Homo sapiens: one gene and its partners. The protein of the gene in region 1 interacts with the protein of each later gene in a biochemical or structural test. Each region holds a gene or a part of one and is shown in the gene's direction. Other genes may lie near its edges.

Region 1 (7,255 bases):
AATCTCCTTCTAGAAAAAGCATCGAAATTCAGGGCGGCCGGGTGGGGCGGTTCCTGGAGCTGCTGGAGTCCATTGTAGCCACAGTCCTGAGTCTCAGGCGGAGAGAGGGGTGGGGGGTGGATGGATGGACCCCCATCCCCATCCCAACCCTGCCAAGAAACAGAGACACAACCAGGATGTGAACTCACGTACACCACCATCACCGCCAAGATGGGGATGTAAGTGTCCTGTTCACACCGATGTCCAGACCCACGACCATCGACGAGCCTACAGACCTACGGACACAGGAAACCGACGACTTGTGTTCACACTGTCACACACACCCATTAACACACACGCACCTCTTGAAATGGGACACGTATATTGGTGTAGGCTTAGCGACACAGCAGTACCTCTTTGACGCACGTATGGACACAGGAAACTGTGGACTTGTGTTCACAACCACCCCCAGCGCACACATAAACACTCACAAACCCCTCGAGATGATACAGATAGCGACGAAGGCACATGGAGACCACGACACCTCCCAGACTCATGGAGCCCTGAGCACATGCTTGGATACAGGTAGACACAAATGTGTGTTCACCCCCACACATGCTCACATGGACCCAAGGACGGACAGGCGGATGGATGGATACACATCTTTACACAGAGACATAATGCAGTTGGCTCGCTCAGGTGTGTACACAAATAACTTTTCTTTTTCTATTTTTTTTTTTTTTGAGACGGAGCCTTGCTCTGTCGCCCAGGTTGGAGTGCAGTGGCGTGATCTCGGCTCACTGTAACCTCTGCCTCCCGGGTTCAAGCAATTCTCTGCCTCAGCTTCCCGAGTAGCTGGGATTACAGGTGCCCGCCACCACGCCCGGGTAATTTCTGTATTTTTTAGTGAAGATGGGGTTTCACCATCTTGGCCCGGCTGGTCTTGAACTTCTGACCTCGTGATCCACCTGCCTCGGCCTCCCAAAGTGCTGGGATTACAGGCATGAGCCACTGCACCCGGCCACAAATACCTTTTCAAACACACACACACACACACACACACACACAAATATGCACCAATGCGTGCTTCCCCCTCCTTGCCACAGGGATAAAAAGGCAAACATGCCGACATTTGCTGACACACACAAAGACATACATGGCCGCACACACGGATACACCCGCTCTCAGACACGCAGCGACCTACGCCCATTTTCCTGGCCATACAAGCAGCCGAACGTTCCTGTACTTCTGTATCTGCATAGCTCCCCCAACACTCCTTCCATGGGAGGGGGATGGCTGGGGCTTCCCTGATGCCCCCTTCCCCCAGCTTTCTCTCTGGGTCACTCTGGCCACCCCTCTGTCCCTGCGAAGCTATAGCTCTCTGTCCCTGCTCCGGCCTGGTGCCCTGTTTTCATGGCACTTGGCATTTTCTCTCCGGCTCTGGCCCTGCCTGATTCATGCCCACTGCTGGGGTGGGAGGTGTGCCCAGGTGTGGGCCGGGATGGGGTAGCTCATGAGATGAGCTGGGGCTCCGTGAGATGTTTTGATGCTGGGCCGAGCTCAGAGCCGAGGGCTCTGCCGGGAACAGGGTGCTCCAGTCTCTCTAGGGCCTGGAATGTCTTGTGTAGCCTCAAGAGCTCCCAGACGGAGGCTGCGGGAGCGGAGTCAAGGGCTAGGCTTTGCCGTCAGACAGAAATGGGTTCGAGCTCCAGCTCTACATGTTCTAATCTTGCGACCTGAAGCACAGGATTTTCCTGGCCTGTAAAATGGGCAAAAACCAGTGTCTATCTCTTGGGCTGTACTTAGGTTCAATGTGGTGCCTGGCACATAGTGTGTGCTCCATAAATGGTAATTGTTGCCAATTGTTGGTTGTCAACCTCCCAGACCCTCCCAGCTGAGAGAGGGATGCCTCTGAGGGGTAGAAGACAGGATCGAGCACCTCCCAACCATAGATATCCAAGTGGACTGCCTGGAGGAGGAGGAGGCAAGAGGAGAGTTTGGAAGGATGAGAGTTTGCACATGGCCCAGCTCTTTTACCTTTGGATGGGGGCCTGTAGGCCAAGCAGAGGGTGGCACAACTTCAAGATAGGGGAGAGATGGTGGGGGAGAGTGGGGGGCAGGAGGGGAGAGACGAGGCCTCCACTGTTCCATGAGGACCAGATACCCTGGTTGGGGGCCCTGAGTCCTGGTATAAGAGTATGTGTGCACGCATTCATCCAAATGTATGTGGGACAAAGAGACCCGGTGCATCTAGATGATGACTTCAGGGACGTCCCCAAGCTCCAGAACTTTCTGTGTCTGCACCTGGGCGTTGTCACCTGGACCCGCCATGGAGACAGGACATATGTGCAGGACCCTATGGTGGGCACTTGGCTGGATCAGGGCACATTGCGGGTGGGAGCAATGCTGGGTGTTTGGCCGTGGCGCCGTGGCTGTGGGCAAAATGCCCCCGTGGTTGGTGTGTTGACTGCCGTCCTCCCCATCTAACCCACAGGGAGCCTGGCCTTTTAAATCTGCTGAGATATTGTCTCCCCCACCCCCATGAAGCTGGAATCTGGGGACTTGCTGGACCAGAGAGGTAGGGGAGGCTGGGCACTTTCTCCAACACGGTGCTGAGAATGGGCCTTCTGTCCCCTCCCTCCCAGCTGGGGTGGGGAAAAGGAGGGGGGTGTCTTAATTTTCTTGCCCCCAAAGCCCTGGATGTGGGGGCAAGTGGGCCAGGAGGACAGCTGTGAGCCACTATCTGGGTTCTCCCAGATCGGTGTGCATGTTAATCGGCATGTCAGGCCTCAGAGCCACCATTTTCCCGAGGATGTCTGTGTGGCAGCGTGTGTCTGCCCGGGTCCCTCTCCATGCCTCTCCATGTCTCCCAGCGTCCATCACTGGGTGCTACCTGCATGTGACTCCACGGATCATCGCACGCCCTGTCTCTTGTGTATTTGGTAGTGGGGGTCGGGGAGCGTGCCACCATGCGTGTCAGTGTGCCGGATGTAGTCTCTGTGTCACGGTGGCGCTGCGCACGTCAACGGGTATTGGTGTACCGGTCACCATCTTTGTATCTGCGCTTTGTATCTGGGGTGACAGTGTCCCAGCGACATGCGTCACATCTACAGCAGTGTTTTTCTGGGTGTCTGTGCGTCACGGCAAAGAGTGTATCCGTGTGTCTCACACACGTGTTGGCCTGTCCGTGTCAACTTGTGTCCACATACGTGTCAACGCACGTGTCTCCAGTGTCATCACCCTCATATCACTGTGCCTCCTGAGCTTGTCCCCGTGACAATCACTGTGGGTCTCACCCCACGGGCGCCTCTCCTGGGCATTCCCTTGGCCTCCGAGCACCATGTGAGATGCCTGCTATGGCGGCCGGGCAAGCGGCTGGGAGCGGGCTGGCTGCTCAGTCCCTTCCCATGAGGTTGAGCGGCCGCAGTGGCCTTGCTGGGGGCCCCGCCCGTGCCCCTGGCCTGGCGTGGACAGAAGCCCGTTGTGCGGCAGCGAGGTGCGGGCGTGTGTTCGGGCCGCCCACAGGCCTCCCTCTGTCTGCCCGGCGCACATTGATCTTGGCTTCTGCCTGTGTCCGTTCTAGCCTGGCCAGCTGGGTGTCCGGCTGTCTCCGTGGGCCTGAGCCCACTATCCCCGCTGCCCCCACAGCCAGGCAGGCCCTGGGCCCCACACCCCTGGGCCACCCGCCATCCCTCCGAGGCTCTGAGGGCGCGGATTTGGAAACTGAGGTCCCCCCTTCTTTCCCCCTTTCTCTCTCTCTCTTTCCTCCCTCTCTCCTCCCCTCCTCCCCTCCTCCCGCTCCCTCTCTCCCTCTCTCTCTCCTCCTGCCAAACGCGTCTTGGCTCCGTCTGAATATCTCTCCTCCTCGATTTTTGGCTCCAGCTCTGGGCGCGTTCACTAAAGGAAGAAGGGCTAGCTCCCCAACCCCCCCTTCCTCACCACCTCCCCCCTCCCGAGGAGCCCCTCTGAGGGCGGGAGTGGCCTCGTGCAGGGGCCTGGGCCCCCTGAGTGGGCTTGGCCAGGGGGGCACAGGCCTGGCGGGTGAGGGAACAGGGTGGACAGGGCCTGGCAGCCAGAGGGAGGCAATGGGCAGGGTGACTGAGCTGCCCGGCGGGGCGGGCGGGCAGGGAGGGGTCGGGGGCACGGAGCTGGGGTGTCTGGCTTCTGGTGGGGCTGGCAGGCCTCTGTGAGGCGCAGCTGTGCCCAGAACTCCAAGTTGCGTTTGCCACCACTACCGATGTGGCTGCGCCAGCCAGGGAGGGGAGGCGGGTAGCGGGCACTGCGGCGCTCTGCAGCCAATCGGAAGCCGGGGTTGCACTGGGGAGCTCTCCCCCCACTGGGCCCCACCCTGAGGGGAGCCGGGGGTGGTGGCCAGCAGTGGGCAGGGGGCAGTGCCCACCACCATCGCCAAGGACCCTGCCCCCTCAGCTGAAGCTCAGTGCCAGCCTTCCTGGCACAGATCGGGCAAGAGCGGGGATCTGTCTGTCCCCACCTGAATCTGTGTGAGCCAAGCTGGAGGAAAGGACAGCATGGAGGTGCACCCGACCCCCCTGGGCCTTTTAGTCCAAGGCAGGCAGGAGCTAGGGATGGGTTCCAAATTATCCAGGTGGTTCCGTCCAAATATCGGCTTCGGTCGAATCATCTTGGGGAGTTGGGGGGGGGTTTATTCCGGGTCCATCTCACACAAAGTCACACACTCTCACTGGCACATGCGGGCACAAAGAATCACGCTGACACACACTGGCATGCTGCACCTCCCTCAATCAAACAGACACAGGCGTCCCCATACAAAGAATCTTGCCCTCACTCACAGACACCTTGAGGCACCCGGCCACACCCGAACACATCGATGCGGCATTACACACTCAGGGACGTGCATGTGGGTGCAGACACACGGGACACGCGCAGTCACACGATCACATGCCATGAAGCACACAGCACAGACACAGGCTCTGCCACCGTCAAATGCAGCCCCACAGGCACAGCTAGAAACACACAGCACACACACTCAGTCATAATGTCAGTGCCCAAAACACACACATGAGCACCGATACACCCGCACATGCCACCAAGCACACAGGTACATGCACATGCATGCAATAACACGCTCTCAGACACACAAAACACCCCACACACTCCCTAACCCAGTGTCACCCACCAGGAGTGATTTCACCCATTGGGAAATGTCTGGAAACATTTTTTTTTTTTAGAGACAGACTGTCATCTGTAGCCCAGGCTGGAGCACAGTGGTGCGATCTCGGCTCACTGCAGCCCTGACCTCCCAAGCTCAAACGATCTACCCATCTCAGCCTCCTGAGTAGCAGGGAATACAGGTGCATGCCACCACACCTGGCTAATTTTTAAATTTTTTTGTAGAGACAGAGTCTGGTTATGTTGCCCAGGCTGGTCTTGAATTCCTGGGCTCAAGCAGTTCTCCCGCTTCACCCTCCCAAGTAGCTGGGACTACAGCCGAGCACCACCATACCCAGCTAATTTTTAAATTTTTAGTAAAGATGAAGTCTGGCTTTGTTGCCCAGGCTGGTTTTGAATTCCTGGGCTCAGGTGATCCTCCCGCCTCGGCCTCCCAAGGTGCTGGGAGCCATGAGCCACCATGCCCAACCTGGAATCATTTTTGGTTGTCACACTTGTGGAGGGGGTGCTATTTAGTGAGTGGAGACCCAGGATGCTGCTCAGTCCCCTACAATGGAACCCCTCAACCCTCGCCGACCACAAAGAATGATCCAGCCCCAAATGTCAGTAGTGCCAAGGTTGGAAACCCTGCCATGCATCCCCAGATACACAGTAACACACACAGGCACAGCTAACCCTTGACACTCATTACACATGCACCCACATACACAGTCACACCCAAACAAGACGCCAGCTGACAGTGTCACACACACACACTCTCCCTCACTAGGACCCAGGCATTGTCGCATATATACCCCATTTCCCCTGCCAAACCCAGGCACAGTCGGCGTGCCATGTACACAGTCCAGTGTTACCCCAGCACACAGGGACGAGAGCCACACCCCCACACATATTCGCACCTGGGCCACACCTGGCAGTGGTTGGAAATGGTGCCTGAGAGCTGAGACCTGCCCTGGTGGCACCTCCCCTCTGCTTGTCAGCCACAACCAGCTGTCTTTGCGCAGCAGCTACAGCCACCCCAGCTTCTCAGGATAGAATTGGGAGCCCCAAATCCCTGCCCTGGTTTGTAGAAGCCTGGGGTGAGACAAAGCCTGGAAAAACCACATGCCCATCCCTGCCCAGGACACTCGCAGTCTTCTAGACTCCGTGGTCGAGGGCTCCACCCTCACCTCCTTGCTCCTGGCAGCCACCGAGAGAAGGGATGGGGACAAAGCTAGGTTCTTTTTTTTTTTTTTTTTAAACAGTCTCACTCTGTTGCCCAGGCTAGAGTGTAGTGGTGCAATCTCAGCTCACTGCAACCTTGGCCTCCCAGGCTCAAGCAATTCTCATGCCTCAGCCTCCCGAGTAGCTGGGATTACAGATGTGCACTATCACACCTGGCTAATTTTTGTATTTTTAGTAGAGACAGGGTTTCTCCATGTTGGCCAGACTGGTCTCAAACTCCTGGCCTCAAGTGATCCGCCCGCCTCGGCCTCCCAAAGTGCTGGGATTACAGGCGTGAGCCACTGTGCCTGGCCAACAAAGCTAAGTTCTGAGACTCCTGTCCTCCGTGGGGCTGTCTCACTAATCCTTTGGCCTTTGACTCCCCAGTTCTGACCCCAGAGAAAGAAGAGACAGCGGTCAGCAGAATGGTAGAAGAAGATAGGATAATAGCAAAATAAATGTTTGTCCTAAAAATCGTAGCAACAGCTAATGTGAACTGTGTGCTTGCTGCGTTGCACCCTTGCTAAGTGCCTTCCCAGCTTGTCTTCTTGAATCCTGTGTTCAGCAGGTACTGTTATTAGGAGAGTGGGGCCTGCAGAGCCAGCTTCCTGGGTTTGACTCCTGGCTCTGCCACTCACTAGCTGTGTAACTTCAGGCAAGTTGCTTAACCTCTCTGGGTCTCAATTTCTGTATCTAGGAAGCAGGGCTGTGGTAAGGATCTGAGGAGTTGGTTCACAGCACACGCTTTAAAACTGTGCTTGATGTGAAAACCTGCTTTGATTTTATGGATGAAAAACCAAGACTCAGTAGAGGTATCCAGTGCTAGGGTCAAGGGCGGGGAGCTCTTTCTTCAAGATCGTCACCACCCTAAATCCTGCCGATGGGACAAAATTGCAGCTTGTTCTCTGGCCTTTCCCAAATT
Region 2 (8,226 bases), on another chromosome or scaffold:
ATAGCATCTACTCAGAGGGTTGTTGGGAGGATGAAGTCCGATGACAGGAGCCCTCACAGCTGAGCCGGCACCTGGGGAGGCCCTAGAGTGTCGCCTTCGCTGTTAAGGGGCATGGCAGAGGAGGCCCACCCATGACAGAGGAGCTTGTCATCCCAAGCAGGAATGCCACCTGGTCTGACATTAGGATTCAAAAGGCAAATGATAAACTCCTGACTGTGAGGCCGTGGTGGCTGCTCGGTTAATACTTGTGCACTTGACCTGAGGTGAGCATCCTCCACACCTCCCAGTGCTGGCCTAATAGCTAAATGATTTCCTCTGACTCACATTTATTGAGCAGTCACTATGCTAGGTAGGGGAGATGTGTGTGTGTATTCTTATTTAATTCTCTCATCACTTGGGGATATCAAGGGTGCATAAGATTATCAACATCGTACATATGCAAAAGCCGAGTCCTGAGAGGTTAATAGCGTGATCTGCCTAAGGCCCCTTGGGTACTAGTGGCAGGATTTCTTGACTTCAAGTCACTTTCCACTACATCCGAGACTGAGGATGACACAGCCTTATCCAAAGGTGGAGGTGGCCTAGAAAATGCTCAGGGGAGCTCCCACAGCCACCCCAGCGCACTCAGACTCGGCTGAAGACCCACAGGGTAGCTTCTGTCTGTCACTATGCTGCCCTCGACCACTAACCTGTGCCCGTCGGCCCTCCACCTTCCCAGTGCATAGGCCCTCCCCTGCCACACCCCAAAGCTCTCCGGATACCCCAGTATAACCTGCCTGGCTGGTGGGTCCAGTACCCAAGACCCCTCCTCCATCCCTGGTGATTTTGGCTCTGGAAGGGGGTCATTCACAGCCTCAGGGATCCAGAGACTCTGTGAAGACCTCCCAGGGAACTTTATGCTTGTACCTCAGCCCCAGAAATTCAGAATCAACCAGTCTGGGGTGGGATCTAGGCTCCAGTATGTTTTTTTGTTGTTGTTGTTGTTTGTTTTTATGAGACAGAGTCTTACTCTGTCACCCAGGCTGCAGTGCAGTGGTGCGATCTCGGCTCACTGCAACCTCTGCCTCTTGAGTTCAAGTGATTCTCCTGCCTCAGGCTCCCACGTAGCTGGGATTACAGGTGCGTGCCACCATGCCCAGTTAATTTTTGTATTTTTAGTAGACATGGGGTTTCACCATGTTGGCCAGGCTGGTCTCGAACTCCTGCCCTCAGGTGATCTGCCCGCCTCGGCCTCCCAAAGTGCTGGGCTTACAGGAATGAGTCACCACGCCTGGCTCAGTATGTTTTTCTTTTTTTCTTTTTTTTTTTTTTTTTGAGACAGAGTTTCGCTCTTTTTGCCCAGGCTGGAGTGCAATGGTGCAATCTCAGCTCACTGCAACCTCCACCTCCCGGGTTCAAGTGATTCTCCTGCCTCAGCCTCCCAAGTAGCTGGGATTACAGGCGCCTGCCACCATGCCCAGCTAATTTTTTTTTTTTTTTTTTTTTAGTAGAGACAAGGTTTCACCATGTTGGCCAGGATGGTCTCAATCTCTCGACCTCATGATCTGCCCACCTTGGCCTCCCAAAGTGCTGGGATTACAGGTGTGAGCCACCACACCCAACCAAGGCCCAGTATGTTTTTCTTAACTCCACAAGTGATTGTAAATTCAACAAGAATTAGAGCCAGTCCTAGGCAACTGATTAGAAATGCAGAACCTCAGGCCCCACCCCAACCTGAAGAATCCCAGTGCGCCTTCCCATTTGAGAAGCACTGCCCTACGCCAAACCCCGTATCCGCAAGCCAGGCCCTGTGAAAGGCCCCCGCAGGGAAACTGGAGGTAGGAGGGCACACAGTCCAGATAGAATTAAAGAGTGGAGGCCAGGACCCCCCAGGTCGCATCCACACAGCACTCAGAGGTGCTAAACGCTTTCCCTGTGTTCCCTCATCCCATCTCAGCCCTGTCCTCTGAAAGTCAGGAAGACAGTCTCATGCCTGTGTGGGGAAACTGAGGCTGGGGCAGAGCCTCAACTTGACCAGACCATCCCTCACTCCTGCATGGCCCCTGGTTCTGCAGCCAGCAGATTTCCTGACCTTCATCTCAGTGTATCCTTCAGGGCAGGCAGGGAGGGAGGGTGACCATCGCCCCACGTGACAGGTGAGGGACCAGGGACCCAGTGGGGGAACACAGGCGGAGCCTTCCATAAAGCCGGACCAGCTCCCTCAGGAAGAGGACTTGGGAGCTGGGGGGTGAAGGGTCACTGCTGACCGGAGGCAGCTCTGCCAGGCAGTGTCATCAGTGGGCTTCACGTTTGACTGACAGGTATTCCTTTCCTCTCCTCCTCTCTGGGGCCCATCTTCTGAGTAAATCCGGGACCTGCCTTAACAAAAGCCAGGCTGAGTCCCAGGAAAACCCTGTTGCTCCGGAAAGGCCTCCTTGGGCCATGGAAGGAAGCCTGGATTTCCACCATTACACTCAGACCGCAGACCCCTCTCTGCTGCAGAATAAACACCCTGAGAGAAGGCAGGTCATAGAGCCTACCAGACACCACACCTTGCCATGGACGGTGACAAACCCTCACTTCAGGACAGAGAGGTGATGGGGGGTGGGGTAAGGAGGTCACAAGCATCCCTGGAGAAGGGTCAAGAATGAGGGGGTAAAGGGACCCCTGCCACCCCCAGCAGGGAAAGGAGGAGAAGGTGACACTGGCCCTCCTGTTGTCCTGCTGGGGCAGAGGCCCAGGTGTCTTCAGCCAGGATCCCTCCCCTCTCCAAGCTCCCTGCTCTTCAGGAATGACTATGGGTCCTTCACCCTTGCCTGCTGGAGAGCACTGGGTTCCCAGGGCCTGGGATGGGATGGAGGGGATCCCAGTTGCCAGCATGGTGGGCAGGGATGTGTTCGCAGCAGGGGCCCCAACCACACACACACAGCACTGGTCATCTGACAGCCCTTCCCACCCGCCCTGCAGGCCCACCTGCCTCACCCAACACTGCTCAGCAAAAAGCCCAGCACAGCCCTGAGAGGAAGGCAGTGTCTGTGCGGGGACAAGGGAGAGAGAGAGGGAGTGGCCCCTTCTGTCTAGCGTGGCTTCCTGCAGACAGAGCGTGCCCACTGCTACCCCCACCCCCATCCTGGCACAGCTGGACCAAGGAGGGCAAAGGAGGAAGCAGGGAGTTAGAGAGGGGGCAGCTGTGGGACCCCACATTCCACCTCCTAACTCTGGGCTCTTTCCTTCCACAACCACCCCTCCTGCCCCAGGCGGGTCTCAGGCCAGTCACAGACACAGCAGAGAGCGGGGAGGTCCTTTCCTCAAAGAGGAGGAACTGAGGGGTGGAAGGATGAGTGGGGACCCACCGGGAGAGAGAGATGCCAGGCAGGCAGGCAGCGGGCGGGCAGCAGCGGGTGTTGGAGGCGACTGCAGGGCAGCCGGGACACGACGGCAGATGCTCGTCCCTCGTCCCTCTGTCCATCCAGGGCGGCTCCTCTCCGGGCGGTTCTGAGGCCGAGCGGGCGCTGTTAAAAAGCTTTTTATGTGTGTGTGTGTTAATCACATGATTGCCGTTCACCTGTATTTCGAACAAAGACAGCTCACTGTTTCAAGGCCCCGAACAAGAGTCTGGGCACAGGGAAGAGAAGGGAGGCGGGGGGAGGAGGGTTGGCAGCGCCGGGGGTGGCGTCGAGGAAAACTGGGGGGAGATTGTCCAAGGCCAGCAAGCGAGAGAAAGAGAAAACCCTTATCAAACTCCTAATTCACTGGGCTCCGAGGCCCCAGACACACTGGCCCGATTGTCTGGCTGGTTGTGTGTGTGAGCATGTGTGTGTGTGTGTGTGTGTGTGTGTGTGTGTGTTCCAGTGTCTGCTCCCCCCACCCCCAACATGCCTCTGCCTCGTGTGACTACCTCATTGTGTCCCATTTCCCACCCCCTACACCCCTTTGGACTTTCCCAAGCATGAGGCCTTGCCTCCCCAGACCCTTTGCAGCCCACTCCAGACAGGACCCCTTGGGGTGGTCTTGGGGCTTTGCCCTGCTGTTGAGGAGCTCAGAACGTCACATGGTTGCCAATGCGACCCCAGCTCCATTACATAACCCACATACACCCCACCTCGGCCTCAACACCCCGGCGGGGCTGCCCTCAGTTAAGAGAACAGCACTGCGACCTTTGGAGGAGAGGCCAAGGAAAGAGAGAGAAAAAGGTGTCAACGGAGGATGGGCAGGAAAGAAAAGGGGAGGGAGGGAGAGGTGGGCAGAGGAGGGAAGAGGCAGGGCAAGTCCCCACCCCTTGTTGGGGTGGGGGAGTAGAGGACTTCGTGACAATCAGGACTAGGACTCCCCTACCCTCTCCCAAGACAGGGTGAGCCCAGTGTGGAAGGAGCTGGGTCCCAGTAGGTAGCAACCCAAAATGCCTCTAAGACCTACTGAGAGAGGGCCCCCAACCTGTCCCACCTTGGCCTCCTGGCAGCTTTAGTCTTGTGTTTCCACCTTGAACCAGACCAGAACGCGCGTGTGCTGGGTGTCTGCAGAGAAGGGACCAGGGGTCAAGCTGGGGCTCTGCACTTCTCAGAGGGATCCCTGAGAAGTCTCTCTTACTGTGCAGGATGGGGCAGAAAGGGCTGCCTGGGAAAAGGTAGGAGGCAGGGTGAGGAGCTGGGCATCAGTGCCTGGCACACACTAGGCACTCAACAGGATTTCGCAGACGAAGCAGCTAGGGCCAGCCACCCTCACGGGCCCCCAGGACCCTCACCGCCTTCACGTCTCTCCCTAGTCCCCTGCCAAGTGCCCATCCTGCCACCTGAGGCAGACGTTAGGAGTCCTGGTTGGGCCCAATTTTCTTCCATCCAACAGGTTCTGACCCTCCAGCCTACATCTCTTCCTTCCTCGGCCTAACCTCCCCTCCACCTCCCAGACTAAGCCCAAGATAAGCCTCAGCAAGATGGGCCTGGGCAGTAGGGCAGGGAGCTGGGTGGGGGGGCCTGGGCTCCGGGTGGAGGAGCCCTGAGTGTTGGGGATGAAGGAAAGCCTGGAGGCTCCACCTTCTGCCCTTCCCTCCCTCCTCTCCCCTCCCCCCTCTCCCCCTCCTTCCTTCCCCAGCCCTCCGCAGCGGCTCAGGCTCAGTCGCTCAGTCAGTCTCGGGCTGTCCGGCCAGGGTGGTTGGTGGTAAGGATTCAGGCTCCGTCCTAACGAGGCCGTGGCCTGAGGCTCAGGGCCCCCCGCCCCTCCCTCCCAGCCCACCAGCGTCACCTCCCAGCCCCGAGCTGGACCGCACACCTTGGGACACGGTTTTCCACTTCCTAAGGACGAGCCCCAGACTGGAGGAGAGGTCCGAGGAGGTGAGTGCGCAGCCTGCTCCTCCCTGGCCCGCCCAGGCCTGGGACCCTGCTGTGAGGTGGAGAGAGGCGACACCCCGCCCTTGCCCCCCACCTGGCTCTCCTCTAAACCCCGTTGGGGCAGGCTGAGGGAAGAAGGAAAGGTGAGAGAAAAGGTGGGAAATTCCAGGGGCCGGGATTAGAGCAAAATAAAGGCTCCGTTTTTTTCTTCCTTATCATCAACAAACCTCCACCCAAAAAAGGAGGCTAAAAAAAAAGCCACCCACACCAAGAGACGGTTGGGACCAGGTGGTGGGAAGACACAGAGGCGGGACGCACCCACCTAGAGTCTGGCATGTGCGTGGGCCCCAGGGGCCAGATGGGTTTAGCTGGAGCAGGAAGGGCCGCCACCTCGGGGCTGTGCCCACGTCCTGTCTCGGGCCGCCCTCGGGGCTGCGCGCGCGGCCGCTCCATCGCGCCCTCCTTCCATCCAGGTGGGCGTTGGACTCTTTGCGAGGACCCCGGCGGCTGGCCCGGGGGAGGCGGCCGAGGCGGCGGCGGCGGCGGCCGGGGGCGACATGGCGGAGGAGCAGGACCTATCGGAGGTGGAGCTGAGCCCCGTGGGCTCGGAGGAGCCCCGCTGCCTGTCCCCGGGGAGCGCGCCCTCGCTAGGGCCCGACGGCGGCGGCGGCGGATCGGGCCTGCGAGCCAGCCCGGGGCCAGGCGAGCTGGGCAAGGTCAAGAAGGAGCAGCAGGACGGCGAGGCGGACGATGACAAGTTCCCCGTGTGCATCCGCGAGGCCGTCAGCCAGGTGCTCAGCGGCTACGACTGGACGCTGGTGCCCATGCCCGTGCGCGTCAACGGCGCCAGCAAAAGCAAGCCGCACGTCAAGCGGCCCATGAACGCCTTCATGGTGTGGGCTCAGGCAGCGCGCAGGAAGCTCGCGGACCAGTACCCGCACCTGCACAACGCTGAGCTCAGCAAGACGCTGGGCAAGCTCTGGAGGTGAGCACCCGACCGCCCCCCGGGCTCGGGCCCTCTAGCTTCGGGTGGATTCAGGGTAGCCGAGGCGGCCCGGCCTCCTGCACCTCAGAGCGGGACTGTCTGGCAGTCCTCCTTGGATAGGGCTGGAAGACCAGGTGTGGGGGCCGCGCCCGCCCTTCCATCACAAGGACCCTGGAACTCGGAACTCCAGCGGCCTAGGCCGGGTCTCCCTACGGGGCGGCGGGCAGGAAGGCGCCCCCTCGTGGTTGGAATTTTGCGGGTGGCAGACCGTGGGGCCTGGGGCTTTGGAGGGAGGGAAGGAGGCCTTCACTAACTCCTGCCCACAGATACGCACACTATGCCACCAGCTGCTGTGGTCAGGAGGATACGAGGGAAACGCTTGGAAAGAACCAAAGGGTTGGCTGGAGATTCAGGGAAACTGAGGCAGTCAGATGGAGAACTCAGGGGAGGTTTAAAGAAAACGGAATTCAGATGAGAGTCTTTGGAAGAGTGAGGGATGAAGAACTGCGGGACAAATCTGCTGCTGCGGGACCTCATCCTATCCTAGGGCTCTTCCCTGGGACTTTCTGACGCCACCCTCCTTTGAGTTGGGGGCTTCTTCATCCTCCTAGGGAGAGGACACACAGTAAGGGGCTCCCCCTCCTGCCCTGCCCCAGAGTCACCAAGCTGATCTCTTTCCTCCCTCTCCCAGTTCGGCGCCATCTTCCCTGCCAGGGCCCCACCCCAACGTTGAGCAACCTCTTCCCCACTGCCCCAGAGCTGGAGCTGAGCACTCTGGCCAGAAGGAAACCTTGGCCTCCTTCCTGCCCAGGGGCCCTCAGAGTCCCAGGTTCCCTGGGACCAGCCCACACCTCTAGGAAAAACATCCCCCGCAGGGAGCAATTATCCCACCCTCGACTCAGGTCTGGGGTTCAGCCAGGCCTCCTGGGGATGTGTGGAACAAGACAGTCCCCCACTCCCACCCGGGAGTGCCAGAGCAGCTCTGAAAGAGACCAGGGACTCCAGGAGATGTGAGCCGGTAGCAGTCACCTGATTCTCGCTAGACTGACCAAGAGACAGGCCCAGAAAGGCAAAGGAATCACAAAGGTCACATAGAAGTTGGTAGCAGAGCCAGGGCCAGAACCCAGGACTCCCATACTCTCTGTCCAGAGGACTTCCCCTGACCCTGGTGACAGTGGTGGATCACCTACACTTTGAGGAGTGGTCAGGAGGTTGGGGGGAAGCAAGAAGATGAGAACAAGAGTGAGGAGCATCTGGGTTCCAGAAAATTAGGGCTTTGTCAGAGGAGCCCGGCTCTCTTCCGCTGCCCTCCCCCTTGCCAGCCACAGTTGGGTAGAGATTGGGTCTAGAGGCTTAGAGTGGTAGAAGGTGCAGGAGGATCTCCAAGAGACCAAAAGATTCACATCCCGCCCCCTGGCCTGTTCTTGCCATGTGTTTGCTGAAGACCTGGTGCCCCTTCCCCTGCCCCTTCTCAGCCCTCAGTGCCCTGCTCACCCAGGGCAGGCCCAGGGCTCAGCGACCAGCCCGCTGTGTGGACCCAGACAGCCCAGTTCTGCCCAAGAGCAGAGGTCACAGCTAGCTCCTCCACCCAAGGTCCATCCAGATCTGGGTGGGGCTTGGCCCAGGCCAGTATCTTTAGTGCCAGGGGACAAAGAGCAAGTGAGAAACAGACAACCAGGAGAGACATACAGATAGGGCAGACTCTGGGGACCATGAGAAGACCACAGTACGAGCCCAACGAGAGTCAAAGCAAGGACGGACCTCATTTTCCCTCCATCTCCCATTGCCAAGGGTTTAAGATTGGCTCCTCCATTGTCCCTGTCCCCAGGTTCCCCCAGCCCAGAACCCTGGGCTTGGACTCCCTTCAGGAGGACTTATTCTTGGCCATCACTCAAGCTGTGTGCACAGGGGCCAGCCTGAGGTGTGGCAGTCAGGAAA
Region 3 (7,255 bases), on another chromosome or scaffold:
TACCTTGGTAGGTGTGCAAATATGTACTTGGTAAAGAATCCCTTAAGTATGCAAGACAGCAGGTAGTCATACTTGTCTTTTATAATGATAACTCAAACAATTCTGTGCAATGATTCATGGAAACAATTGGATTCTCATGTTCTCCTGGAGCTGTTTATGATAATTCCAGCAAATGCAAGTGAGAAATTTAAAGCAAATAGCTATAAGAAAGGGAGGAGGTGGTGGAAGTACAGAGGGAGAAATACAAGATAGCAGCACTTTAGTTATTTGTGAAACCAGACTGTTTGGTGTGTATAAAAAAATGTGGAAATTTGGGTTGGTGGTAAAAACCTTTCTTCAGCTTTCACAGACAATTATAATTTATAAGAATTCATGTCCTCATATGAGAGGCTTTTCTATTTCTTTTCCTCAGAAGTTAGGATATATGTAATGTTATATAGTAGTCATATTTTAAGAGGGTATCTAAATTACTCTGCATTCCCTGAAATCAGCTCTAGACGGGTAGTGTGTTAAATACATATTGTTCAAGCTCCTCATCTTGTTTTCTCTCAAGGCTGTTCTCAACACCGACTTTTGTAGTGAGGCAGCTCCAGTTTTGTCTGATATAGCTGGTGTGGTTTCTCTGGTCAGAGATGGAAGGTAGAAATTGGATCTCATATTTCTCTGGGCCTTGAAATAAACGGGCAGTGACATTCTTATTTTATTTCATAATTGTCTGTGTAAGAATATAATTAAATGTTGATCATCTAGGCTAACCAGAAATAGCATGCTAGGAAAAGCATGGATAGTTAACAACCAACAAATATTTGTTAGAAAATTACTGTGTAAAAACTGCAGTGAACCTCTCAGCCTTGTGTGTCAGTAGCTTTAACTACTTCCTCAACCAATTTTGTTGTCAAATTGCCCAGAATGACAGTTAAAAGGATTGGTTAGAGAATTACCTGCTCTATGTTTCTCTCTCTTTTTTAAAGTTGTTAACTAGTAATTACATATCTCAAACTGTAGAAGTACACAGAAAAGAAAAAGATAGCAAATCCTTTTACTAAGCTCTGATTAAATGAGTATTTAGAATATCTAACCAGAATATTCAAAATAAAATTCTACAGGAATGGTATAAATTAGTAAAGAATAATTCAGATAATAATTGAAAATAGTTAATAATTTATTTAATTTAGATTTCAGACACTTTTAATTCTAATAGCATCTGCCCTGGCATTAGACCAACCTGAGTTGAAATTTTGCCCTCTGTATTTACTAGGTATGACCTTAAGCAAGTTTTCATTTTTATTGTTTTAATAAACAGTTTTGTGCCTTGGCTTTCTTATCAGTAAACAGGGATAATGACATTATTTAACTTCTAGAGTTGCTCTAAGAACTAAATGAAATAATACATGTAGCAGTGCTTAGCACAGTGCCTGCCTGGTACTTTCTAAGCATCTAGTAAAAATTATCTATGTATCTTTTCAACCATCTCTTCAACATCCATCCATCCTTCCATCCATCCATCCATCCATCCATCCATCCATCCATCCATCCATCCATCATCTGCCCATTGGTTCATTCATTTATCCATCTTTTTTTATGTTTCTGACAACATAAATTGATTATTTTGGGAGGCTTTCTTTGCCAGGGAATATGCAGAACTTTTAAAATATGAGGTGAATTTATTGTCCAGAGTGTGTGCAAAGAGGAGACACCCCCAGAAACCAGTTTATTTTAAGTCCTTTTTCATGGCTACTTTTTTCTGGTTGAAGATAACACCCTAAATTTATTTCTGCCTATTAATTCAATAATATTTAAATAATTGGGAAGTATTTACTGAGTGTTTCTTTTCACAAAACATTGTTCTAGGTATTGTGGGAATGCAGAGAAAGCTAGGATTTTGTTCTCACCCTTGAGAAGTTTGTAATGCGGTTGGGGTTACTTAGAAAATATAATGATATTATACATTTTTAAAAGATTATGTGAGGTAATATCCATTAAGTGTTGAATGAGTGATATAAAAAGTAATTTCTCACAGATCTTATTAGAGGTGTTTAGAAGAGGGGTAGATCGTAGTTAACTGGAATAGTCTCAGTTGGTTTCCTAACACTAAGAAAGGAAAGTGAGGAAAATAGGGAGAGACAGGCAGAGCAAAGGCTAGGAGGCAACAATAAGTGAAGTTTGACTGGTGAAGATAAATGTATAAAGATTGGTTGTATCTGGATGGAGGGCCTCAAGTGCCAGGGTCAGGAGTTTGGACTTTATTTTGTCATCAGGGGAGAGCCACTGATGTTTTTTGATCAGGAGAGTGGCTTGATGAAGGGAGTAGCAGTTAAGATTGATTTGGTGGAGGAGATACTAAAATAGAGAAAGTAGTTTAGGGTCTGTTGTAAGAGTTTAGGTATGAGGTGTGAAAAAGCCCTGTGCTAAGGTGATTATAAGTATGGTAAGAGAGATGAGCATAAGAAACATTAAAGAATAGCTGATGGAGCTTCATGACTGGCTGGCATTGAGAAGCAAGGATAAAAATGAGGAGGTGGATAGAGTGTTCATGTTTTGAACCTTGATGATTCTGACAGTGGTACTCTTCTGGGTGTGGATGAATGAGGGGAGGTATTGAGGAAAATAGTGATGAATCTAGTTTTAAGGTGTTTAATATGAAATTGCAGAGCATATCTTGGTATAAATACTTAACAGTCATTTGAGGACTGTTGGATTTCTGGGAGATGAGAGAGTTTAGTGTTGGGGATATGGATATAATAATCTTATGACTTAATGAGATGCTTGATAAAAACAGTATAGAGAAATAATAATGTTTAGATTGGCAGTATTAACATGGAGTGGTATTTTCTGTGATTATCTATTCACTTTAATTTAAAACAATAAGCTATTTGCCTATCTCTCCCTCTCTGCCTTTTCCTCCCTCATTCCCATAGTATTGATTGTCTACGATGTGTTGTGCACTGTGCTGGGCACTGGGGATCCAGCAATGAACAAGACAGATGATCCCTGTCCTCATGAAATATACAGAATTAACTTGTTTTTTAATTAAACAAAATATTTTAATGAGTTCTCCTTTTACCCATTTACCATGAGCTTATGCTATGTAAGCATTTATCTCCCAGGGTCTGAAAGATGTTCTCTGACAAGAAGTTTCCTTTTCTTCCTCTCGTTGATACTTTTTATTTTAGTATATTGTAATAAATACTCTGTAGGAGTATAATTTCAGGAATTGATTAAATTACTCATCATCGAAGTTTAGGAAATACTGATTGCAATCCCCTTTGCCTGGGAGGTTTTTATTGTGCTGAGCTTATAAGAAGTGTCTCTTGGAAAAAATTGTATTATATTATTTGAAAGTTCTAAGAACAAGGAAAAAGATGTTTTTCTAAAACCGTCTTATTTCTTACACCCAGACACTTCTCTTAATGATGTTAAGTTTATCTCAAATCAAAATAAAACGTGCAGCTAGAGACTGGACTTCCCCTTTCTCCTGTCGCTTGCTATCCTTGTTTTCCTTCTGATTTAGCCACCGATGTTCAACCAATGTCTTCATCTCATTCTTTCCTCTACTCCTTCGTAATAAAATAGAGGAATGGAGAAAGAGGAACACAATGCAAGACTGAGGAACACCAGTTGAGACTGATACCAGATGAAAGCATTATTCTAATGTCTGGATTTGTATTCTAAGATTCAAGCTCAGGAGAGCCTATGCTCTTGATGAGCCTCAATTCATTTCACTGTCACCCTGGTGTAGTCAGTGCCTCCCCCTTTTTTGCTAAACTGGTCTATTTTTGTGTTAAATGATCATAAATGATGTTATTTAGAACAGAAGTATCTGTTCTAAAATTGGAATGGAATATTAGGCATATCAGGCATTAGCTATAGGAAATATTTCAAAAATGAAATGGTTAAAATGGGAATATCAGGCATTAGCTGTAGGAAATATTGGTAAAATGGCATATCAGGCATATGGTAAAAATGGAATGTCAGGCATATCAGGCATTAGCTGTAGGAAATATTTTCTTTCTTGCTTGCTTTCCCTTCCTTCCCTTCCTTCCTTCCTTCCTTCCTTCCTTCCTTCCTTCCTTCCTTCTTCCTTCCTTCCTTCCTTCCTTCCTTCCTTCCTTCCTTCCTCCCTCCCTCCCTCTCTTTCTTCTGTTTTCTTTCCTCTTCTTATTTATTTATTTATTTTTTTGACAGAGCCTTGCTCTGTCACCCAGGCTAGAGTGCAATGGCACGCTCTTGGCTCACTGCAACCTCCACCTCCCAGGTTCAAGCAATTCTCCTGCCTCAACTTCCTGCAGAGCTGGGATTACAGGCGCGCACCGCCATGGGTGGCTAATTTTCATATTTTTAGTAGAGACAGGTTTCACCTTGTTGGCCAGGCTGGTCTCAAACTCCTGACCTCAAGTGATCCACCTGCCTTAGCTTCCCAAAGTGCTGGGATTACAGGCATGAGCCACCTCAGCAGGCCTAGCTGTAGGACATATTTTCTGATAAAAATGACATTATTGATGGAAAAAGCCCCTATATTTAGAGTATTTGGAGAATGATTAGAGTTTTTGCTGTATTAGAAGGAATGATATAAATTTGAATGTCTTAAATCTTGAGTTAGTTATGAAATAAAATCACTTTTCTAAGAGAGCTTTTAAAATGCAGTTTGTTTGGAGCATTATCTATATTAATTATATTCATTTTAATTTGTATCTTAGGAATCTTTGGAGTGCGGGAGAACCATGTCAAATTTTCAGTCCTTTAATATTAATTTAGCTTCAGGTTACTGAGATCACTTTGGTAGTGAGCCAATATGGTCACCAAATTTGGATGAGAATTCTAGATGCTGAGTGTCTGAAAAACAGTTGTGGATATGTGTCCTATGCTTGGTTATTTTTCTAAACTTGTGTAGAGATATTAAATCACTTTCATGAGATGAATTTTCAGCATCAAAAATATAAGCTACTTTAGAAGACGAAAACGAAGCGTAACTCTCTGTTAAAGAAAAATTAAGACAAAAGCTTTTGAAGTTGAATCCTGCCTGTCCTTTTCAACCTTCAGGAAGGTTGCTAGGCTAGAAAGACATCTCTAAAAACAAAGTTTTTATAATGGAAAATGCGCTGACATACCCTTTAATGATATAGGTTCAAATGGCAGTGATATAATTTGTAGGTCTTTGTGCTTGGAAATGTCTGGAAAGTTGTAGTGCTCTTATTAATATTTGTAGTCACTTTTTATGAATTAGTATTTCTTGTTGTTTTTCATTTTTATTTAATTTAAGATGAATAAATCTTATTATTAAATAACATGAAGATTGCATCATAGCCTTCAGGATTAAAATGCACTCCTTTTTTGGGGAAGAAGATAGATGTGTTTCCTCTGTTGAAAAATTTAGATTTGATATTTTGTTTTCTTCATGGTAATTATGTTTGCACTTTGCTGATCACTAGTTGTGCATTATTACAATGGAAGGTGACAATTTGATTGTCTTCAATTGGAGAAACAAGTAATTTTATATTCACTAAGCTGTCAGGTAACACTAACTCACAGTACTAAGAGCTCCTGGCAATGCAGCTTGGCACCTATATTTAACTGCTTTGATGCTTGTGTAACCTCTGCTGAATCAGAAGTACTTTGCCTGCTGGAAATGATTTTCAGGCTTGTACAATGAGGTTTTCATTAAGTAGACAAACTGAAAATGAACTGCAAAGCCATGGTTGTTTTTCTCCTCCCCTTTTACCTTCTCCCCTTTTCCCCTCCTCTTCCCCTCCCTTTCTACTCTCACTCCCTTCCTCCCTCCCTCTTCTTTCTCTTCTTCTTGTCTGTCTTTGAATAGGAACCTGAAACTTATACCTTATTTCATCACATGAAAGAGTGGACTTGGTAGATTGCCTTATTTAGCTAAAGGAGGACCTCAGAGATTAGTTTCTTTATATAAATTTGTTCAGTGTTTGTGTGAATTTTCATATTTTGAAACAATCTAAAGTATCAATATTCATTTTTCTCTTTTTTTCTGGAAATATTGAAGAGGGAAATTCGAGTTAAGGATGGAAAAGTATACAGTGACAATTTCCTACACTTTGTCTCTGAGAAGTTATTGTTCTGGTTTATGATTTTTATTAATATAATTGGATAAGATATCCTGTACTTGGGCTTCCATATTAATGGGCCAGTTTCACGCTGACAGAGAGATGTCTGTTTATTCACTTAAAAAATTGTAGTTCTCATTTTATATGAAGAGGAAATTCAAAGTGAACTTACATAAATAAATTCATTCTGCTATTATTTTAGACAGCTTTCTTTCACTCCAGCCACACAGAGGTCTTTCGTTGAGCTATAAAGTCATTGTGCTAGATTAAAATCCTCTAAGTTAGTGTATATTTATAGTAGCCATTGTTAGGTTTTACTCTTATTGTTAAGTCACTGAATTTATTTATAAAATCTGGGCCTGGCTTTCCAAAGCAAAAATTCCAAAAAGTTATTGGTAGATAAACTGTGAGAAGACCATATTATTTATATCAAGCAAAAAGTATAGATAGAGGTTACATGAAGTCAAGTTGTTTTGATCCCAGGAAGAAACCAGATACTCAGGGACACTTAATAATTATAGGTTTTCCATAGGCAGTCAGTCAGCAGGCCAGTCATTAGGCTGGCTGCCTGTCTCTTCCAGCAGATACTAACCAATTAGACAGAGGTAGTTACGTGATGTAACATTATCAGGAGAAACAATTCATGAGTCAAAGCATTCCAAGACATATGAGCTCTAGTCCAAAGAACAGTCTTAAGCTACATAAAGTGACAGCAATATTGTCAGCTAAATATAAACTCTAGAAACACAAACTTTGATGACTTAAGAAGAATCTGTTCCAGGTAGTTCTTGTTTTGTAAGAAGCTCAGAGGGCCTTTGGAGACAATTTTGGTGCTTTGCTGTGAAAAATTGGACCCTTAGAAAAGTCAGAATCCATTAATTTAAGCACTTTCTTAGACACACTTCAAGGGCTTCAAATGTATTTCATTTACCTCATCTCCATTGATTTGACAGCTAATTCTAATCAGTGAGTTTTCTTCTAATAGTTACTGTCCTCATGTGTTACCATATCTGTTCTGAAAGTGCTGCTACAAACTCTAGAAGATAGGTTTATAACTTTCCAAGGTAATTCTGAAAACAGTTACCTTCTTTTCACCTGAATTTTCTTAATTACTTAATGGAAGAAATAGAAAAATCTGGCAGAAGCAGAGGGAAGTTTGGAGGTGGATTGGGGGAGAGGAGGTGGTG
Region 4 (7,434 bases), on another chromosome or scaffold:
GGCAGGTGGATACTTGAGCCCAGGAGTTGGAGACCAGCCTGGGCAACATGGTGGGACTCCGTCACTACAAAAAGTACAAAAATTAGCCTGGCATGGTGGCGCATACCTGTAGTCCCAGCTACTTGGGAGGCTGAGTTAGGAAGATTGCTCGAGCCTGGGAGGTTGAGGCAGCAGTGAACCGTGATAATGCTACTGCACTCCAGCCTGAGCGACAGAGTGAGATCCCATGTCTTAAAAAAAAAAAAAAAAGAAAAGAAAAAAGAAAGCTTAAGTCTGAGCTCTGAAGAATCCTCACAGTCTTCAGTGGAAGAAGGAAAATCAGTGGAGGAAAAACATAAGCAGTGACTACGAAAGTCCAAAGATGTGGAATAAGATATTACAGAAGCAAAAAGAAGGGACACTTCAAAAAATAATTGATGACCAACAAAGTAAAACATGCCAGGGAAGTCCTGGAGGAGGGATACTGAACACTGGAGCTCTCTGAGAAAGGGTTACTATAATGAAGGCAGCTTGCACTGAGTTAAAACAAGAATAAATCATGATGAAATGGAGGCAGTAGGCATGAAGTAAAAAGGAAAGGAAAAGCATGATCTCTCTTGAAGACTCAGGCAAAGATTTTGTCCAGATGATAAAGATCTGAGACAGCTGAGGGGTAGGAAAGACTAAGTTGATGAGAGCCACGGACACACAGGACATGGTGAGACAGATCCAAAGCAGTGTGTATGAGGGGGCACTCATTCCAGCACCTCTATCTTCGTCTTTTTTTTTTTTTTTTTTTTTTGAGATGGAGTCTCGCTTTGTCACCCAGGCTAGAGTGCAGTGGCGCGATCTCGGCTCACTGCCAGCTCCGCCTCCCGGGTTCACGCCATTCTCCTGCCTCAGCATCCCGAGTAGCTGGGACTACGGGTGCCCGCCACCAAGCCCGGCTAATTTTTTGTAGTTTTAGTAGACACGGGGTTTCACCGTGTCAGCCAGGATGGTCTCAATCTGCTGACCTCGTGATCCACCCACCTAGGCCTCCCAAAGTGCTAGGATTACAGGCATGAGCCACCGCGCCTAGCCAATCTTGAATATAAACCAGCAGGAACCATCCTTTCCCCGTGAATCAGAGACAAGGAGGCAAGAAAGGACATTTCAAGCCAGGTTGGGGTGGTGGTGCACACCTGTAACTCTAGATACTCAGGGGGTCAAAGTGGGAGGATTGTCTGAGCCCAGGAGTTTGAGGCCAGCCAGCCAGCCTGGGCATCATAGCGAGACTCTGTCTCTTAAAAAAAGAGAAAGTCCTAGGACTGTGGTCTGGGTGACGTAACTGGATGCCATCTGTTCTTGAAGTGGGGCACTAAAATATTTTAAAAACTCTCCAGAACACTTGTATGAACTACTGAGTTTGTGACCATTCTCCTTAAAGGATTAGTTGGACAGTCCCTGGGTGGCAGTACCATCTGTGCTGAACTCAAACGGCAGGGGTGTACGGGTCTGCATGATGTTGCCTTTTTTTCATTTGTTGATTCACTCACTGATTCATTCAAGGAGGATTTATTTAGGTTGGCTGGAGACACACTGGTTACCCTGCCCCCCTGCCCCCAGACTCAACCTTCAGAGCAGAGAATGGGACTAGCAAACTCCTAACCTGCACACCAGCCCTCTTCAGAGATTATATTTCTTTGCTGTCTCCCTAGGTTTCCTGCTCCCATCTGGAGGAATCCAGCCCTTGGTACCAAGGAAGTTTTTTTTGTTGTTGTTTGTTTGTTTGTTTTTTTTGAGATGGAGTCTTGCTCTGTTTCCCCAGACTGGAATGCAGTGGTGATCTCCGCTCACTGAAACCTCTGCCTCCCTGGTTCAAGTGATTCTCCTGCCTCAGCCTCCCCAGTAGCTGAGATTACAGGCACCTGCCAACATGCCCAGCTAATTTTTTTGTATTTTTAATAGAGACGGGGTTTCACCATGTTGGCCAGGCTGGTCTTGAACTCCTGACATCAGGTGATCCGTCCCCTCTTGGCATTCCAAAGTGGTGGGATTACAGGCATGAGCCACTGCTCCCGGCCTGAAGATTTGGACTAAACAGGTTCATGCTTCCTTGTAGCCCTCTCTACTGCTGAGAAAAGTGCATGGGTTTCTGTAAAGAGACGGGAGGTGATAATGTCTGTCTTCTCCATCAAGATGAAAATACATCTGCTAAATTGGTAGGAGCCCCCACCCTCTTTCAGAACGGGCTGTTAGCAGGGCTGAGGAGGGGCTGGACAAATTGGATAGTAGAGTGGTCAAGGTGGGGGAGGTTGACACTTTTTTTTTTTTTTCAGACAGAGTCTTGCTGTGTTGCCCAGGCTGGAGTGCAGTGGCGCGATCTCGGCTCACTGCAAGCTCCACCTCCCGGGTTCATGCCATTCTCCTGCCTCAGCCTCCCAAGTAGCTGGGACTACAGGCACCCGCCACCACGCCCAGCTAATTTTTGTATTTTTAGTAGAGATGGGTTTCACCGTGTTAGCCAGGATGGTCTCAATCTCCTGACCTCGTGATCCACCCGCCTCGGCCTCCCAAAGTGCTGGTATTACAGGCGTGAGCCACCGCGCCTGGCAGGTTGACACATATTAATGCCCACTATTCCTCCCACTGCCCTCTGTCCCATTTATGGTTCACCTCCTCTAGATATAAGGCTTCAGAGAACACTGAAGGGCTGGTGGACAGAGCTCACCCTTCTTTCTCTTCTTTATCTTTCTGCCCAGATGCCCAAATATCATTCCTGGTTCCCAGGGGAGAAAAGACCCCTTCACCCTGCCCCAGGCGCCAGGCTGCCAGCCCATCTGCTGGGGAGAAAGGAGGGGGCAGAGTCTTTCCCAGGGGATCCTGGAGAATCAGTTTGAAGATCAGTGCTCCCAGGGAGATCCAGCTAGTAGACTTACAAAGCATTTCGGTTCACACGGGAACCAGCAGGATGGAGCTGAACAGCGGGGTGGGCTCGGGACGAGGGTAGAGGGCTGGCACAGCAGGGTAAGGTCCTTTGGCCACCACGTGTCAGAGGTAGGCTGAGCTGCTCGTTGGTGCCCACCCGCCACCGCCACCGCAGGATGGTAGAAGCGCCCCCCTCTCTGAGCCCAGTCTCACCGGCTCAGAGGCGCCAGGGCCCCCCCGGGGGCCGGGGCGGGCCGGGGAAGGTAATGTAATTCCGGCCCAGCTAACCCGATTACCGCGGCCTGCACCGGGCAGGGCGGCGGCGGGGGCGGGTCTAAGGCTCAGGGGCCCGCCCGCGGGGGTCCCATCCCCGGGAAGGACGCAGAGTTCACGCACTCCCGGCTCCTGGATTCATGGCCAGAGGTCACAAGGTCACCAAGCGGCTTAGGTCTTTCCCCACCTCCCTTCTCTGACAGCTCCAGGCCATTTTTTGAGTTTGGGTGGGGTAAAATGTTTATGGGAAACAAGGCGGCCAGGATCCAACCAAGGCCTCAGTGAGGTCCCACGTGTCCCCCGTGGCGAGATTTCGCCCTCCCGCCGTTGAGGAGGAAGAGTGTGAGAACAGACTTCCTAGGCACAGAATGGAGGGGCAGAGTCCTGCATTGAGGACTCCCTGCACTTGGGGTCCGGGGGTAAGTGCCAGCCCCAAGAACCCGCCGGCCTGATTTGGCCCGGGTTGAGCCATGGTCCGTTTTACACGGATTTTGGAAAATCGAAATTCTAGGAAACACAGGACACCAATTACCGGTGCGCATGAACAGGGCTGGGGGGACCTACAGGAGAGGCCAGAAGGCGCACCACGATCGCCAGCCCAAAGCGGCCGTTCCCCGCCCTTAGCCCCTGCCGTCCCCTTCCCACACCTGTTCTCTTCCTGGGCCTGCAGCTCACCGGGCGCCGTTCCCCAGCCGCTTCTTACGCAGCCGGGAAACCACAACGAGATTTGGTCTTCGAGAGCATTTAGGCGGGGACCACAACGAATCCGGGAGTTGGCCAGAAGGATCCATCGAGAGGCGAAGAGTGGGGGCTGGGGGAGGAGGCACCTGCGGAGGAAGCCGGTGAGGCGGAGGCAGCCCAAAGGCGGAGGCCGCCCAAAGGCGGAGGCCAGCAAGGATGGAGGCGCGGTGAGCATCTCCGCTGACTCAGCGGCCCATGCTCGGGCCCCTCCCGCGCTGAGCCTGGCTCCTAACACCCTGGCCCCCTGTCCCCCTCCCCGCACATCTCCGCCAGCCAGCCTTCCCCCTGCGCTTGGCGCAAACAGGCGTCCCTTCCCCTTTAACTGCTGGGCCCCGCCCCTGCCCTACCCCCAGCCCCCACTACCCACCCGGGCCGATCCGTCAGTCACTGCCCCAGCCGGAGCTGGCCAACCCTCTCCACCCGGGACTTGGGCAGCGGCGCCGGCAGCCCAGCGTCTATTTGCGCTTAAGAGCCAGCAAGGAAGCTCCAGGGGCCCCAGCTGGCCGTGCTCCCCCGGGATGCAAGTCCCTGCGCTGACGCCCGGCAGCGGCTGGCACGGGCGCGGCTGCTCCGGGTGCACAGGGATGCTGCTGTTTCGGGGACCCCGGCGCCCTGCCTTGGCCAGCCCCGCGGGCCCCTGAGGCCACTCTCCGGAGCGCGCCGCCGCTGGGCTTCTGGCGCTGCCTGAGGCATCCTCCCCAACCACCGAACCTCCGGCGGTTCTCCTCGGCCCAGACCGATGGAGCCGGGGATGCTGGGTCCACACAACCTCCCACACCACGAGCCAATCAGCTTCGGCATCGATCAGATCCTGAGCGGCCCCGAAACCCCAGGGGGCGGTCTAGGCCTGGGTCGCGGGGGCCAGGGTCATGGGGAGAATGGGGCGTTCTCGGGTGGATACCACGGAGCCTCGGGCTACGGTCCCGCCGGCTCACTTGCCCCGCTGCCCGGCAGCTCCGGAGTGGGCCCAGGCGGCGTGATCCGCGTCCCTGCGCACCGCCCGCTGCCTGTGCCGCCGCCCGCTGGGGGGGCGCCTGCAGTGCCTGGGCCCTCGGGTTTGGGCGGCGCCGGAGGCCTAGCGGGACTCACCTTCCCCTGGATGGACAGCGGCCGCCGCTTTGCCAAGGACCGGCTCACGGGTGAGGTTGTCTGACCCCTCCAGCGTCACGCCCGACTCTGACCCCGTCTCCTCATTTCTTAGCTTTCTGCTCCAACTCAAGGACCCCTTTCACACCTCCCACTAGATCCTCCCAGGGGATCCTCCCCCAACTCAAATCTCTGGGTCCTGCCTCCGAGAGGTGATGGGGAGGGAGCTGCCGTCGGTGCCCGCGCCCTCCTCTGTAGTCCCACTGTCCACGCGTGGGGAGGGGAGGGTGAAGTTACAGGGGACGTCTCCCTCGCATCCCAGGGGAAGGGCCTTTCTTGGCTATAGGGCTCGGCTGATGCTTAGGGCCCGGGTAAGGACAGGGCGCGGGAGTTCTGCGGCCTGGACAGCCGCGCGGCCTTCTCAGTGGCACCTCGGGCCACCCTGCAAATCCTGCCCTGGTCTTTCTTCCTCCCGGTAGCTGCGCTCTCGCCCTTCTCTGGGACGCGCCGCATAGGCCACCCCTACCAAAACCGGACCCCTCCGAAGCGGAAGAAGCCGCGCACGTCCTTCTCCCGCTCACAGGTGCTGGAGTTGGAGCGGCGCTTCCTGCGCCAGAAGTACCTGGCCTCTGCGGAGAGGGCGGCGCTGGCCAAGGCCTTGCGCATGACCGACGCACAGGTCAAAACGTGGTTCCAGAACCGACGCACCAAGTGGCGGTGAGGCGCGGCGCGGGCGAGGGCGGACTGGGGTTCCCGAGCAGGGCCTGGTGAGAAGCGACGCGGCGGGCGCCCCGCTGACCCCGCGTCTCCCTCCCTTAGGCGCCAGACGGCGGAGGAGCGCGAGGCCGAGCGGCACCGCGCGGGCCGGCTGCTCCTGCATCTGCAGCAGGACGCGTTGCCACGGCCGCTGCGGCCGCCGCTGCCCCCGGACCCTCTCTGCCTGCACAACTCGTCGCTCTTCGCGCTGCAGAACCTGCAGCCCTGGGCCGAGGACAACAAAGTGGCTTCAGTGTCCGGGCTCGCCTCGGTGGTGTGAGCGACGCCCGTCCGATCGGCGTGGAGCGCCGGGCCCGGAGCGGTGGAGCGCGCGGCTGCCTGCGTCCATGGTCTAGTGGCAGCCGGGCGCGTGAGGAGCGGCAGGCCTTGAGGCTGTCGTCGAGGGCTCCTCCACCACCGGCCGGCTCCCAAGCCAGCGTTGCGCAGATGCACGGCCAGCTCAGAGGCGGCCTTTCCCGCCATTTTTCACTTCACTGCCGTTACGCCCTCGCTGGAACCTGAGGCGCCGAGAGGGCGGGACCTGCAGGACAGTAGCCAATGAGGTGCGGGGAGGGGGCCGGGCTGGCCAATGGGAGCTGCTTTCCTGAGGGACTCGAAATTCTCCGGCGGGTGGTCGGGAGCTGGGGCTCTGAGGGGCTCTAGCGGCGTTGCGCGCGGTGCCGGCTGGGTCTGTACCAAAGGTGTGAAGGAAAGAAGACACCGACCACGGCGAAGCAATAGAGGGGGTGCTGGAGCGCGAGAGGCTGGCTGATTGTGACCGAAACCAGAGGGTTGTCCACCCCGGGCATCTCATCCCTCAACTGTAAAATAATCGCTAAGGATTCCTTCCTGACTTTGAGCCTCACGTTGTCATGTGTGTTCAGCCTGCTGGCCACATCCTCCGGCAACACGCCCGGGCAGGAGGCGAGTCGGATACTTACACACCCAACGAAAGAGAAAATCTGGCTCCGGTGTCACATAGGGACAGAGAAGGGAGAGGAGGAAACAGTGGACAAAGTTAATGGGCCCAGTGGAGTTAGGGTGAAGAGAATTTGGAAAATAATTTGGAAGTGACAAGCTTAAGAAGAATCAAAGGTAATTCCAAGACTGGAAATGTGCAGCATCAGGAAATCAATGGTGCTGTGGATGATGAAAGGGAAATTGGGAAGACTGGAGCAAAATTAACTGTATAGGCAAAACTAAATGTTATACCTAGAGAGAATAAATCCTGGAGAAGTGCCTTTGAGGGAGATCAGCTGACATCCACATAGAGGTGGACCTAGATAGAATGAATGAGAACAGATAGAATCTCTGAGGGAGGGAACTCTTGAGGAGAAAAGCAGAGTTCTAAGGACTAAACCTTTCCACCAAATTCGACAACCACCTTTGCAATGTGCAAGATGATGGAGAATACCTAAGTCAATAGTCCAAGGGCAGGCAGGGCACGGTGGCTCACGCCTGTAATCCCAGCACTTTGGGCCGAGGCGGGAGGATCACAAGGTCAGGAGATCGAGACCATCCTGGCTAACACGGTGAAACCCTGTCTTGACTAAAAATACAAAAATTAGCCAGGCATGGTGGCACATGCCTGTAGTCCCAGTTACTCAGGAGGCTGAGGCAGGAGGATCGCTTGAACCCGGGAGGTGGAGGTTGCAGTGAGCTGAGATTGCACCGCTGCACTCCAGCCTG

Evidence for each region.
Region 2: the proteins of NFIX (region 1) and SOX10 form a complex in vitro, tested with the Homo sapiens proteins (one study listed by BioGRID).
Region 3: the proteins of NFIX (region 1) and SOX6 form a complex in vitro, tested with the Homo sapiens proteins (one study listed by BioGRID).
Region 4: the proteins of NFIX (region 1) and TLX2 form a complex in vitro, tested with the Homo sapiens proteins (one study listed by BioGRID).

The regions. Positions count from the first base shown.
Region 1 is NC_000019.10:12,998,470-13,005,724, forward strand, and holds part of NFIX (nuclear factor 1 X-type), read left to right. Parts: intron 1-7,255.
Region 2 is NC_000022.11:37,981,419-37,989,644, reverse strand, and holds the start of SOX10 (transcription factor SOX-10), read left to right. Parts: upstream 1-5,089; 5' UTR 5,090-5,306; intron 5,307-5,776; 5' UTR 5,777-5,860; coding exon 5,861-6,288; intron 6,289-8,226. Other genes in the region: POLR2F (DNA-directed RNA polymerases I, II, and III subunit RPABC2), read right to left, coding at 3,333-3,491. UniProt on the Homo sapiens protein: Transcription factor that plays a central role in developing and mature glia.
Region 3 is NC_000011.10:16,346,539-16,353,793, reverse strand, and holds part of SOX6 (transcription factor SOX-6), read left to right. Parts: intron 1-7,255. UniProt on the Homo sapiens protein: Transcription factor that plays a key role in several developmental processes, including neurogenesis, chondrocytes differentiation and cartilage formation.
Region 4 is NC_000002.12:74,510,165-74,517,598, forward strand, and holds TLX2 (T-cell leukemia homeobox protein 2), read left to right. Parts: upstream 1-4,285; 5' UTR 4,286-4,642; coding exon 4,643-5,042; intron 5,043-5,468; coding exon 5,469-5,706; intron 5,707-5,808; coding exon 5,809-6,025; 3' UTR 6,026-6,984; downstream 6,985-7,434. UniProt on the Homo sapiens protein: Transcription activator that binds DNA elements with the consensus sequence 5'-CGGTAATTGG-3'. Binds DNA via its homeobox. Required for normal cell death of enteric neurons in the gastrointestinal tract.